Linked DNA regions of Homo sapiens. The protein of the gene in region 1 purifies or fractionates together with the protein of each later gene. This does not show direct contact. Each region holds a gene or a part of one and is shown on either strand. Other genes may lie near its edges.

Region 1 (3,653 bases):
ACTCTCCAGCTGGGGTTCGGCACCCTTATTCAACTGGGAGCTCTAGGAGCTGCCACCTGGCATTGCCATTTTCAGCTCAGGACTCTGCCATGTGTTCTGGCCCCCACTTGTAAGCACAGCTTACTCCTTCTGAGTCAACAGAGCCATGCTTGTCTAGGGGGTAGAATGCTTGGGTTCCATCTCTGAACTCTCCCCTCACCAGCAGGCCTGGCTGTGGCTTGTCCAGTAAAATGACAGCTTCATGGTCAGCCTATGCTAGCAGGTCCAAATCAAGAGTCCTGGTCCCTGGGAAAATAGCCACACCTTATCTAAAGAGGTCAATCTGCTTGTTAGGAATACTGCCAGTGCCAGTGATTCATAGGCACACATCCCAGTTTCACACAACTGCAAGTCTGGCCATGACACTCTCTCACTCTCATACACATTAACAGACACTAGTAACCCCTCCTCTTCCCCCCGAGATGACCTGAGGGAGGGGAAACCAAAATAAACACAAGCTGTCCACGCCTCACCCCTCCCGAGTGAAAGCAGGTAACTGCTAGGCATAAATTTTCCCACTGGTCAAGCCAGAGACCCCTTTGCCTTTGGTGGCCGCATTAGTTTCTATCCTGATGGGTCCTGTTTCAAGGGCTGATCTGTGTTTAGATAGTATCAACATTTAGCATGAGGGCCCTCCCACACCCCTTTCCCTTTGGGTTTGGGAGGCACAAAATCTTCTCCTCCATTCCTTCCCTGTCCCTGTGTTGAGGATCCTCAATCACCAGTATCAATTCTCCAATCCCTCTACAGTGCTCATTATGTGACTGAATAGGGCAGGGTCAGTAGAAAAAAAATTTATGAAAATGATTACAAATAATAGTAATTTAGATTTATATGTGCTACATACTGTGCTAATAGCTTTGAACTCATTCAATTCTCTGAACACTCTAGTACGTAGGTACTATTCTCATAAAGAATAGTGCTCTATTCTACTGATGAGAAAACTGAGGCTTAGAGAAATTAAGCATTTGCCCAAGGTCACCAAGATGGTAAATGACAGCGCTATATTCAAACACAAGATGTTAACTACTATTCCATATTGCTTTCCCAATTGCCTCGCAAACTTGGCCACAGTATCAGGGAAACAGGGCTACCAGGGCCAAGAATTCAGGCCATCTGGTTAGGTTATCCAATCCAGTGTTTGTACAGCCCCCTCTGGGAGGGACGCCTACGTGGACGACATCCAGGTATTGTCTATGCCACCTTAGGAAGAGCAATTTTACAATCTTCCTTGGTAACCTGGTTCATGGTTTAATCATTAACCTAAACTCTTGTTTTAGCAGAATTTTATCAGTGCACTATTGATTGCTCTATTCTGTGTGGGAAGACATGAAAGAAAAATGCCTGTACCATCACCCTTCCCAGAACTGAAGACTGTTATAAAGTTATTCCCTTTAGCCTCCTCTACCCAACTCAACAACTTAAATGTTTCCCCAGATTTCCACTATCCGTCTCCCACTGAAATCACGGAAGCTGCTGTTGTTGTTAAAGAAGCTGAGGCTGTAATGCCAGCATTTCCATGTCATCATTATCTCTGTGTCACAGAGGCTGGAGAAAGGAGGAAGGAACTAGGGAGACCTTCAATCCAAGTTCACTCTCTGCCTCTGCACCAACAGCAGCAATCTGAGGCTCTGGCCTCCAGCAGGGCTGTCTGCATTTTCAGATAGATCTAGCCAATTCTCCTTGAAGGAACTCGAAATGGGCCCCACGGGCAACAGTGCAGTAAGACCCTGTCACGACAGAGAATGAATGAGATGACAAGACAGCGCTGTGCAAAGGGGATGCAGGAAGAGAAGGCAGGAGTCATCCACTTAGAGCTGGATCCCCAGCTGGACCTGAGCGTGAGCCTCCAGAAGAGGTCACCGCAACTCAGCTGGGAATATTCTTCTCATTGCTTTTTAGGTTATCCATCCTTGTTTCCTCAGCAGAAGTGGTGTTTCTGTTAAAGCCAGTTATTTTCTTCCCCGAAAGGTCACCTGAAAAGTGTATTTGAAGGGCCAGATCATAAGCCTGACATGCCAACACAAGTCATCAGCAGATGTTGTTTCTGGAAGGCTAAATTCAAACCACTAACCAGAAAAAAAACTGCCCTTTGATCTGAAGCACAACAACAGTAATAAATCCTCTTTATCACCTGACCAACAGGGCCTCTCTTTCCTTTGGTTTGTGACTGCCTTAGATAGCTGGCTGCCAATAAAAACTGCCCCTTTCCCTTCTAAAAGGCACAGTTCTCAGCGAGTATGAGAATGTGCAGAGTGCGCACTCAGTCACGCAGGAAATGCCCTTCTCTGGATTCAGGGGCAGCAGGGAGTATTGCTGACAGCTCAGCGCTGGTCCGGTCAAGCTCAGAGCCCCAGAATTGAGGCCCTGAAATAACAATCGACCCCTCTCCGAGGGAAAACTAGCCCCGAGGTGCGTAGTTCCCTGGGACTGGGGCTTGCTTTGTGTCTGGTGAAGAGATAAGGACACACTGCTACACTCAGGATGAGAAAGGGACAGGATGGAAAAGCAAGCACGAGCAGCCTCACGTCCTCCATGTGTTGGCTAAGTGGGGCAGGGATATTCGAAGACCTGATCTCTTCTCCCCGACCCCCTGTTCTGTGCCTCGATACTTGAGCCCTAAACTTCTGAGCAGGAACTAAAGATGGTCCATAGTTCCTAAAGATCCAAGGTCAGAAGGTCAGAGATACGGCTGAGGACATTAGAAAAGAGCCAAAGAAACCAGGTACAAGAAGAAATTTTCCACGACTCAGGTGTTTAGTAAGTAGCAGATGGGAATTACATAAAGGGGAAATAGCTTAATTTTATATCTCTCATCACAGGAAAATACTGAAATAAAGTTTCTTGGCACTGTAGCTCCCCAACACCCCAGAGCTGAGAAGCCTGCTCCTCTCTTGGCCCACCTTGTGCGCAGTTTCTGCAAACTGCTGGGCGCTGTTCTTCAGGTCTTCTGTCTTCTCCTCTGCTCGGCCTAATCGCTCTCCACGCTCATTCAAGGCCTGGCTTGCCTTCTGCACTGCGCTGGTCACGCTGTCAGCAGCTGAATGGAGGATGCTGTTTCCTGAAAGGAGGAGAGCAGGAGCATCAGAAACTGGCTCAGCTGACCCACAGTGACCAGACTCCGGCAGGGTGAGTATCCTGTAAGAGGAAGGCAGGTCACACTGCAGAAAGGCCGCTCGTCTAGTGTCTAGGAAACAAGCCGACATTTCTTTTGATTGGGTTTGACTGACGCACTTGCAGCAAGAACACCCACTGACTGCAGGACCTAGGAAAATCCTAAATGCTTCTCTATAAACTCATCACTGACATGCCAGTCATTTCCATTCTGCCAGTATTCTATCTGTGGAGGCTCAAAAGGATGGGGCCTGTCTGGATTTACAACTTGGCTTGCAAAGATAAATGAAAACGTTGACAAGTTCACAGAATTAGGCAAGTTCAATGAGACATATCTGGATCTTATGTTATTTCCTTTTGACCTGTGGTTTCGGTGAATAACCATAGGAAAACTGGGACCACAGAACTTTTCTAGATAGAATGCTCTATATTCCTTCCAATGCTTCTTCTTCATTTTACCCCTTCATCCAGCAAGTAAAGAACACCCCAAAATGTACAGC
Region 2 (3,653 bases), on another chromosome or scaffold:
ACTCCAGCCTGAGTGACACAGCAAGACCCTGTCTCTAAAAAAATGATAACCTTCCACCTCTGTAGTCATGTGTCTGAACCAGTCATTGGGATCAGTTACTTACCATCTTAGAAACTTACGTATGAAGTAATGGGAAATTCGGTGAGAATCTGACTTGTATCCCTGTCCACAAGAAAGAGATGTTATAAAATTTATAATGGCTTTATTGAGATATAATTCACTTATATACAATTCATCTGTTAAAATGTACAATTCAAGTTATTAGTATAGTCACAGAGTTGTACAACTATCATCACAATCATTTTAGAACATTTTCTTCATCCCCGAAAGAAATCCTGTTACCTGTAATCAGTCACTCCTCACCTCAGCCCTTGGCAACCACCAACACTGCATGTCTACTTCCTGTCTTTACCGATTTGCCTATTCTGGACATTTTATGTGAATAGAATCATATACTATGTGGTCTTTTGTATTAGGCTTTTTCCCTTAGCATGTTTTCAAGGTTCACCTATGTCATAGGTGTGATTTCTTTCTTTTCTTTCTTTTTTTTTTTTTAAATGAGACGGAGTCTTGCTCTGTTGCCAGGCTGGAGTGCAGTGGCACGATCTTGGCTCACTGCAGCCTCCACCTCCCGGGTTCAAGTGATTCTCCTGCCTCAGCCTCCTGAGTAGCTGGGACTACAGGTGTGCACCACCACACCCAGCTAATTTTTGTATTTTCAGTAGAGATGGGGTTTCACCATGTTGGCCAGGATGGTCTCTATCTCTTGACCTCATGATCTGCCCGTCTCAGCCTCCCAAAGTGCTGGGATTACAGGCGTGAGCTACCGCGCCTGGCGTGATTTCCCTTTATTGGCAAAGAACATTCCATTATATGGATAGACACTTTTATTTATCCATTTATCAGTTGGGCATTTGAGTTGTTCCTACAGTTTGGCTGTTACAAATAATGCAGCTGTGAATATTTGTGTACAACTTTTTATAAGGATATATATTTTCAATTTTCTTGATTGTGTACCTAGGAATGGTTTTCCAAAGCCATTACACCATTTTACATTCTCATCAGGAATGTTTGAGGGTTCTAATTTTTTCTATACCCTCACCCGCACTTGTTACTGTCAATCTTTTTTATTATAACCTTCCTAGTGGGTGTGAAGTGGTATCACATTGTGGTTTCGATTTGTGTTTCCCTAATGACTAATGATGAGCATCTTTTCATGTACTTCTTGGTCATTTGTGTACTTTTGCTGGAGAAATGTCTATTCAGATCCTTAGCCCATTTAAAATTGGGTTATATGTCTTTTTATTGTTGAGTTATAATAGTTCTTTATATATTCTGGATACTAGACTCAACAGATTTACAGATGTTTTCTCCCATTCTGTGGGTTGTCATCCATTTTCTTGATGGTATCCTTTGAAACACAAACATTTTAAATTCTGATGAAGTCCAGTGTATCTCTTTTTTCTTTTGTTGCTGTGCTTTTTGATTTGTGTCTAAAGAAGTCATTGCCTAATCCAAGGTCAGGCAGACTTATGGTTGCGCTATAAGAGTTTTACAGTTTAGCGCCTACGTTCATACCTGTGATCCATTTGGGTTAATTTTTTTTTATTTTCTTTCTTTCTTTTCTTTCCTTCCTTTCCTTCCTTTTCGTTCTTTTTCTTTTTTCTCTCTCTCCTTCCTTCCTTCCTTCCTTCCTTCCTTCCTTCCTTCCTTCCTTCCTTCCTTCCTTCCCTCCTTCCTTCCTTCCTTCCTTCCTCCTTTCCTTTCTTTCCTTTCTTTCCTTTCCTTCCTCTCCTTCCTCTCCTTCCTTCCTGTCTTCCTTTCTTTCTTTCCTTTTCTCTTGCTCTGTCGCCCAGGCTGGAGTGCAGTGGCCCGATCTCAGCTCACTGCAAGCTCCCCCTCCTGGGTTCACACCATTCTCCTGCCTCAGCCTTCCGAGTAGCTGGGACTACATGCGCCCGCCACCATGCCTGGCTAATTTTTTGTATTTTTAGTAGAGACAGGGTTTCACCGTGTTAGCCAGGATGGTCTGGATCTCCTGACCTCGTGATCTGCCCACCTCGGCCTCCCAAAGTGCTGGGATTACAGGCGTGAGCCACCGTGCCCGGCCCATTTGTGTTAATTTTTGAATATGATATGAAGTGGGTTAAACTTCATTTTTCTTTTTTTGAGACAGGGTCTCTCTGTGTCACCAAGGCTAGACTGCAGTGGGGCGATCACAGCTCACTGCTGCCTCAACCTCTCTGGCTTAAGCGATCCTCCTGCCTCAGCCTCCTAAGTAGCTGGGACCACAGGTGTGCACCACCAAACCTGGCTCATTTTTGTAAATTTTGTAGAGATGGGTTTTGCCATGTTGCCCAAGCTAGTCTCGAACCCTGGGACTCAGGCAGTCTGCCTGCCTTGGCCTCCCAAAGTGCTGGGATTACAGATGTGAGTCATTGTGCCTGGGCTTTTTTGTTTTTTTGTTTTTTTTTTTGAGGCAGGGTCTTGCTCTGTAACCCAAGCTGGAGTGCAGTGGTGCTATCATGGCTCACTGCAGCCTTGACCTCCAGGGCTCAAGTGATCCACCCCACCTCAGCCTCCAGAGTAGCTGAGACTACAGGTGCACACCACCATGCCTGACTAATTTTTGTATTTTTTGTAGAAACGGAGTTTTGCCATGTTGGAAACTTTATTCTTTTGCATGTGGATATTCACTTGTCCCAGCACCATTTGTGGAAGAGACTATTCCTTCCCCATTGAATGGTTTTGGCATCCTCAAAAATCAGTTGACAGTTGTGAGGGTTTATTTCTGGACTGTTAATTCTGTTTTACTCATTTGTAAGTCCATTCTTATGCTAGCACCACACTGTCTTGTATTTAGGTTTGAAATTGGGATGGAAGAGTTCTTTTCAAGATTTTGTTCTTTTTCAAGATTGTTTTGGCTATTCTGGGTCCCTTGCATTTCCATATGAATTTTAGAATCTGCTTGTCAGTTTCAACCTCCAAGCTAGCTAGAATTTTGGCAGGGAATGCATTGAGTCCATAGATCAATTTGGGAATTACTGCCATCTTACCAATAGTAAACCTTCCAATCCATGACCATGGAATAGCTTTTGTTTATTTAGGTCTTCTTCAGTTACTTTCAGCAGTCTTTTTTAGTTTTTGTGGTGTACATTTTGCACTTCTTTTGTTAAATTTATTTCTAACTATTTTTTGTTTTTGATATTGTAAATGGACTTTTCTTAATTTTATTTTTGAATTGCTCATTACAAGGATATAGAAGTCAAATTGATTTTTTAAATATTGATTTTTGTATCCTGCATTCTTGATGAACTCAGTTATTAGTTCTAATTTTGTTTGTGGATTCTTTAGGATTTTCTGTATTCAAGATTATGTCAATTGCAAATAGAGATAGTTTTACTTCTTCTTTTCTAAACTGGATGCCTTTTGTTTCATTTTCTTGCCTACTTACCCTAGATAGAACTTCTGGTACAATGTTGAATAGAAATGCCAAGAGTAGACATCCCTGTCTACTCTGCCAAGAGTAGACATTCCCTAGATTATAGGGGAAAGCATTCAGTCTTTCAGCATTAAGAATGATGTTAGCTGTAGGTTTTGTAATAACTTTTGTCAGGTTGAGGAATTTTTCTTCTAGTTTGCTGAGTACTTTT
Region 3 (3,653 bases), on another chromosome or scaffold:
AGCAGCCATGCCGACACCTTGACTTTAGTCTACAAGACCTGTGACAGACTTTCAGCCCACAGAACTTGAAGATAATATATTTATTTGTGTTATTTTAAGCCACTAAGTTCATAACAATTTGTTGCAGCTGCAGTAGAAAACTAATATATTATTTCACAGACATCTTTTTACATCAGTATTTACAGATTTTTTTTTTTTTTTTTTTTTGAGACGGAGTTTTGCTCTTGTCACCCAGGCTGGAGTGCAATGGCACGCTCTCGGTTCATTGCAACCTCCGCCTCCCAGGTTCAAGCAATTCTCCTGCCTCAGCCTCCCGAGTAGCTGGGATTACAGGCACCCGCCATTACGCCTAGCTAATTTTTGTATTTTTAGTAGAGACGGGGTTTCACCATGTTGGCCAGGCTGGTCTCGAACTCCTGACCTCAGGTGATCCACCTGCCTCGGCCTCCCAAAGTGCTGGGATTACAGGTATGAGCCACCTTGAGCCACCGCGCCCGGCCCCTATCTCATTTTGTTTTAATGGTGTTTAATATGTTTGACATCTTCCAACAAGATACGTCTGCCTGAAACTCCAATAGGGCAATGAAGAAAACTGATTGCTGAGGAAACATAACTAAAAAGGAATATTGCAACTAAATGTGGGGATCTTATGTTATTAAAGTTTTATCCTCATATACTTAAGTAAGGGTGGTATTTACCAACTCTATTTAATCTAACATTCTTTCTCAATTACGTATCCATCCAGGAAAAGAAAGTAAATGAAAAACTTTTGTCTTTCTAATATTTTTATGATTGTCTCTCCAGGAAATCTATTAAGACTCACCTCAACCAGTCAAATAGCATTCAAATTTCTGTATGTTATTTCATTGCTTTAACATTTTAAGTTTTTATAAAATTGCCTAATCATAAAACTTCCTCTGGGGATATTTCTTCCAGAGAAGCTTTAAGGTCTTTATCATTCCTTAAGAGGGCAAGATCCTTGTACTCTGCTGCTTTTCTTCTGTTACAGTAACTTTCCTGCATAGACCTGTTAACCAGCTCTGATAAAGAAGCCATGTGATGTTGCATAAACAGCATTTACTGTGGGACCCTCTCTTACCTTGCATGGCCTCTCCACAGATAAATGGCATCTCCGTAAAATGAGCAAACCAGACTTCAGTCTTCTGAACCGCAGGACACAGCTAGATTCACTTTAAAGCATACCACTCTATCCTTCAAATTATTATCTCCTTCACAGTGATATGTAAAGTAACAAAACCCCAGGGGGCCCTTTAAACAAAGAGCAAACCTTGCTTCTTAATAAACTGATGCCACTTTTAGACTCCACTGGATACACATCCTTCTGTTACATCTAACAGAGAAATAAGTTGTCCTGTACGAGCCAAGGATATCATTTTAATACCATGATCTGGAAGTGCCCTTAACAACAACAACAACAACAACAATCTAGTCTAGATGTCCCAACTGTTAGAAAGATGAGCTACAACCATCTTACAGGTCTACAATACCTTAACCAGAAATCTATAGCTCTGAAAATTAAAAGTTTTTTCAATAACACTTTTGGTGGCAAAATCTAATCTGACCTGAACTCATCTGACAGCAAAATCTGACCTGAACTGATATGAGGTTATTTATCACTTTTATCCCTTTAGTGTGAATATTCATACATCGTGTTGTAGAAATATCAGTATGAATAGGGCAGCACCACAGATCCCACAGGAAGTGTTATATAATATATAGTTTATGCATCTTACTCTAAAGAACAAAACATAAATCTGAATTCCAAAATGCACCTTGCCCCAAGGGTTTTGAATAAAGGACCAGGAATCTATATTCAAAAACAACTATCGTTTTTTAGTAGAAGTCTCAAAACTTTTAACTATTTTATACTTAACTTGGTTTCTTTTATGTACTTTGAACATTTACTTCATTTTGGAGAGTACACTGGGGAGTTGCATTGCTTCCAGTGGGACAGTCTATGGATGCTTTCATGATTTTTTTTTTTTTTTTTTTTTTCATTTTTGAGATGGAGTCTTGCACTGTCGCCTGGGCTAGAGTGCAATGGCATGATCTCAGCTCACTGCAACCTCCACCTCCTGGGTTCACATGATTCTCCTGCCTCAGCCTCCCGAGTAGCTGGGATTACAGGTGCACACCACCACACCTGGCTAATTTTTGTATTTTTAGTAGAGACAGGGTTTCACTATGTTGCCCAGACTGGTCTTGAAATCCTGACCTTGTGACCTGCCCACCTTGGACTCCCAAAGTGCTGGGATTACAGGCGTGAGCCAATGCGAAGGGCCAATGATTTATTTCAATGACGATTTACATTTGTTTCAAAAGTTTTAAACCAATTTTATGGTGAACACTCACGGAGCACCAAAATGAATTTTTGCAAGGAATATCCTGCCTGCAAATACTCCATCGGCTCATCTTCTCAATGGAGGAAGGAAGCCTGGGTTCTTAAGTTTCATACAATGCTGCCAATTTGGTGAAGAAGAGGTGAATAAATGAGAGATGCTCTGGGGGCAGAACAACTAGTACTTGGTGATTAGACAAAGGTGGGGGACCAAGGAGAAGCAGGTATCAGAAATGATCCCTGGTTCTGCCTCAAATAGCTGTGTGTTGGTGGCTCCATTTCCTGAAATGGGCAAGAGTGAGGGAGATACGATTCTGAAGCAAAGATAAGATTCTGGTAGGATAAAATTTATTTTTAAGTTCAAGATGTCTGTGAGAAACCCAAGAGTACATATTAAGTGAATAGCTGAATATATGAACATGGAGTTCAAGAGAAAAGTCTCAGCAGCTGCTAAACTTGGGAGGGCGTATGGATAGTGTTTAAAAACAAGACAATAGATAATGTCATTGGGTATATGGAAAGAGAAAGGAAAGCGCAGTGTCAAGCTTTAAGGAGCTCCTGCGCCTGGAAGTTGGATAGGATGAGGATCGGACAAAGAGGACTGAGACTGAGAAGTGGTCTGCCGTGGGCACATGAAAGCAAAGGAAAGCACTTCAGGGAGGACGTCAATTAGGTCAAGGCAGCTGGGGTCTTGTAAGATAACTAAAGTGTCCATTGGATTTGCCAACACAGGTAACGGCTGAGCATGGCCACAATCTCAGTGGTTTGTTTGGGCACTGAAAACCAGATTGAAGTAAGCTGAATATAAACAGGAGGTGACAATGTGGAAATATCTTTATTTTCAGTGGGTGATCCTTTTGAAAAATGTTGAAATGGCAAACAAAGAAATGGAGCAGTAGCTGAAGGGGAATGTGAAAATGAAGGGTTTTCTTTTGCTGGAGGTTGGGGAGATGGGAGGAAGCTGAATATGTCTGCATGACAAAGGCTGTGGTCCTGGATACAAGGATGATGAGGACAGTGGGCAGAGCCAAAGTCCCAGACAAAGTGAAGGAGGATGCCATCCAGAATATATGTGGGGGGATTGTTTTTTTCATAAGAAGAAAGGTCTACGTTTTTGAAAGAAGAGAGATCACAGGTACAGATATAAGCAGAATTATACATTTTGTGGTGGGAGGATAAGGGTTCCATATGATGGTACCTGGAAGTGAAGAGGACTTCACAGTATGCATGTTGTATAGTCTGTTTCTTTATTTTATCCCACCCTGCTATACATTTTTGTAAGCTGCTTTAAATC

What was found.
Region 2: the proteins of STXBP6 (region 1) and XPNPEP1 purify together in Homo sapiens (affinity purification with mass spectrometry; one large-scale study listed by BioGRID and IntAct). This does not show direct contact.
Region 3: the proteins of STXBP6 (region 1) and ALS2 purify together in Homo sapiens (affinity purification with mass spectrometry; 2 studies listed by BioGRID and IntAct, with this or other methods). This does not show direct contact.

Annotation. Positions count from the first base shown.
Region 1 is NC_000014.9:24,816,095-24,819,747, forward strand, and holds part of STXBP6 (syntaxin-binding protein 6), read right to left. Parts: exon of another isoform or gene 3,101-3,653; coding exon 2,943-3,100; exon of another isoform or gene 2,896-2,942; intron 2,800-2,895; exon of another isoform or gene 2,264-2,799; intron 1-2,263. UniProt on the Homo sapiens protein: Forms non-fusogenic complexes with SNAP25 and STX1A and may thereby modulate the formation of functional SNARE complexes and exocytosis.
Region 2 is NC_000010.11:109,916,937-109,920,589, reverse strand, and holds part of XPNPEP1 (xaa-Pro aminopeptidase 1), read left to right. Parts: intron 1-3,653. UniProt on the Homo sapiens protein: Metalloaminopeptidase that catalyzes the removal of a penultimate prolyl residue from the N-termini of peptides, such as Arg-Pro-Pro. Contributes to the degradation of bradykinin.
Region 3 is NC_000002.12:201,770,857-201,774,509, forward strand, and holds part of ALS2 (alsin), read right to left. Parts: intron 1-3,653. UniProt on the Homo sapiens protein: May act as a GTPase regulator. Controls survival and growth of spinal motoneurons.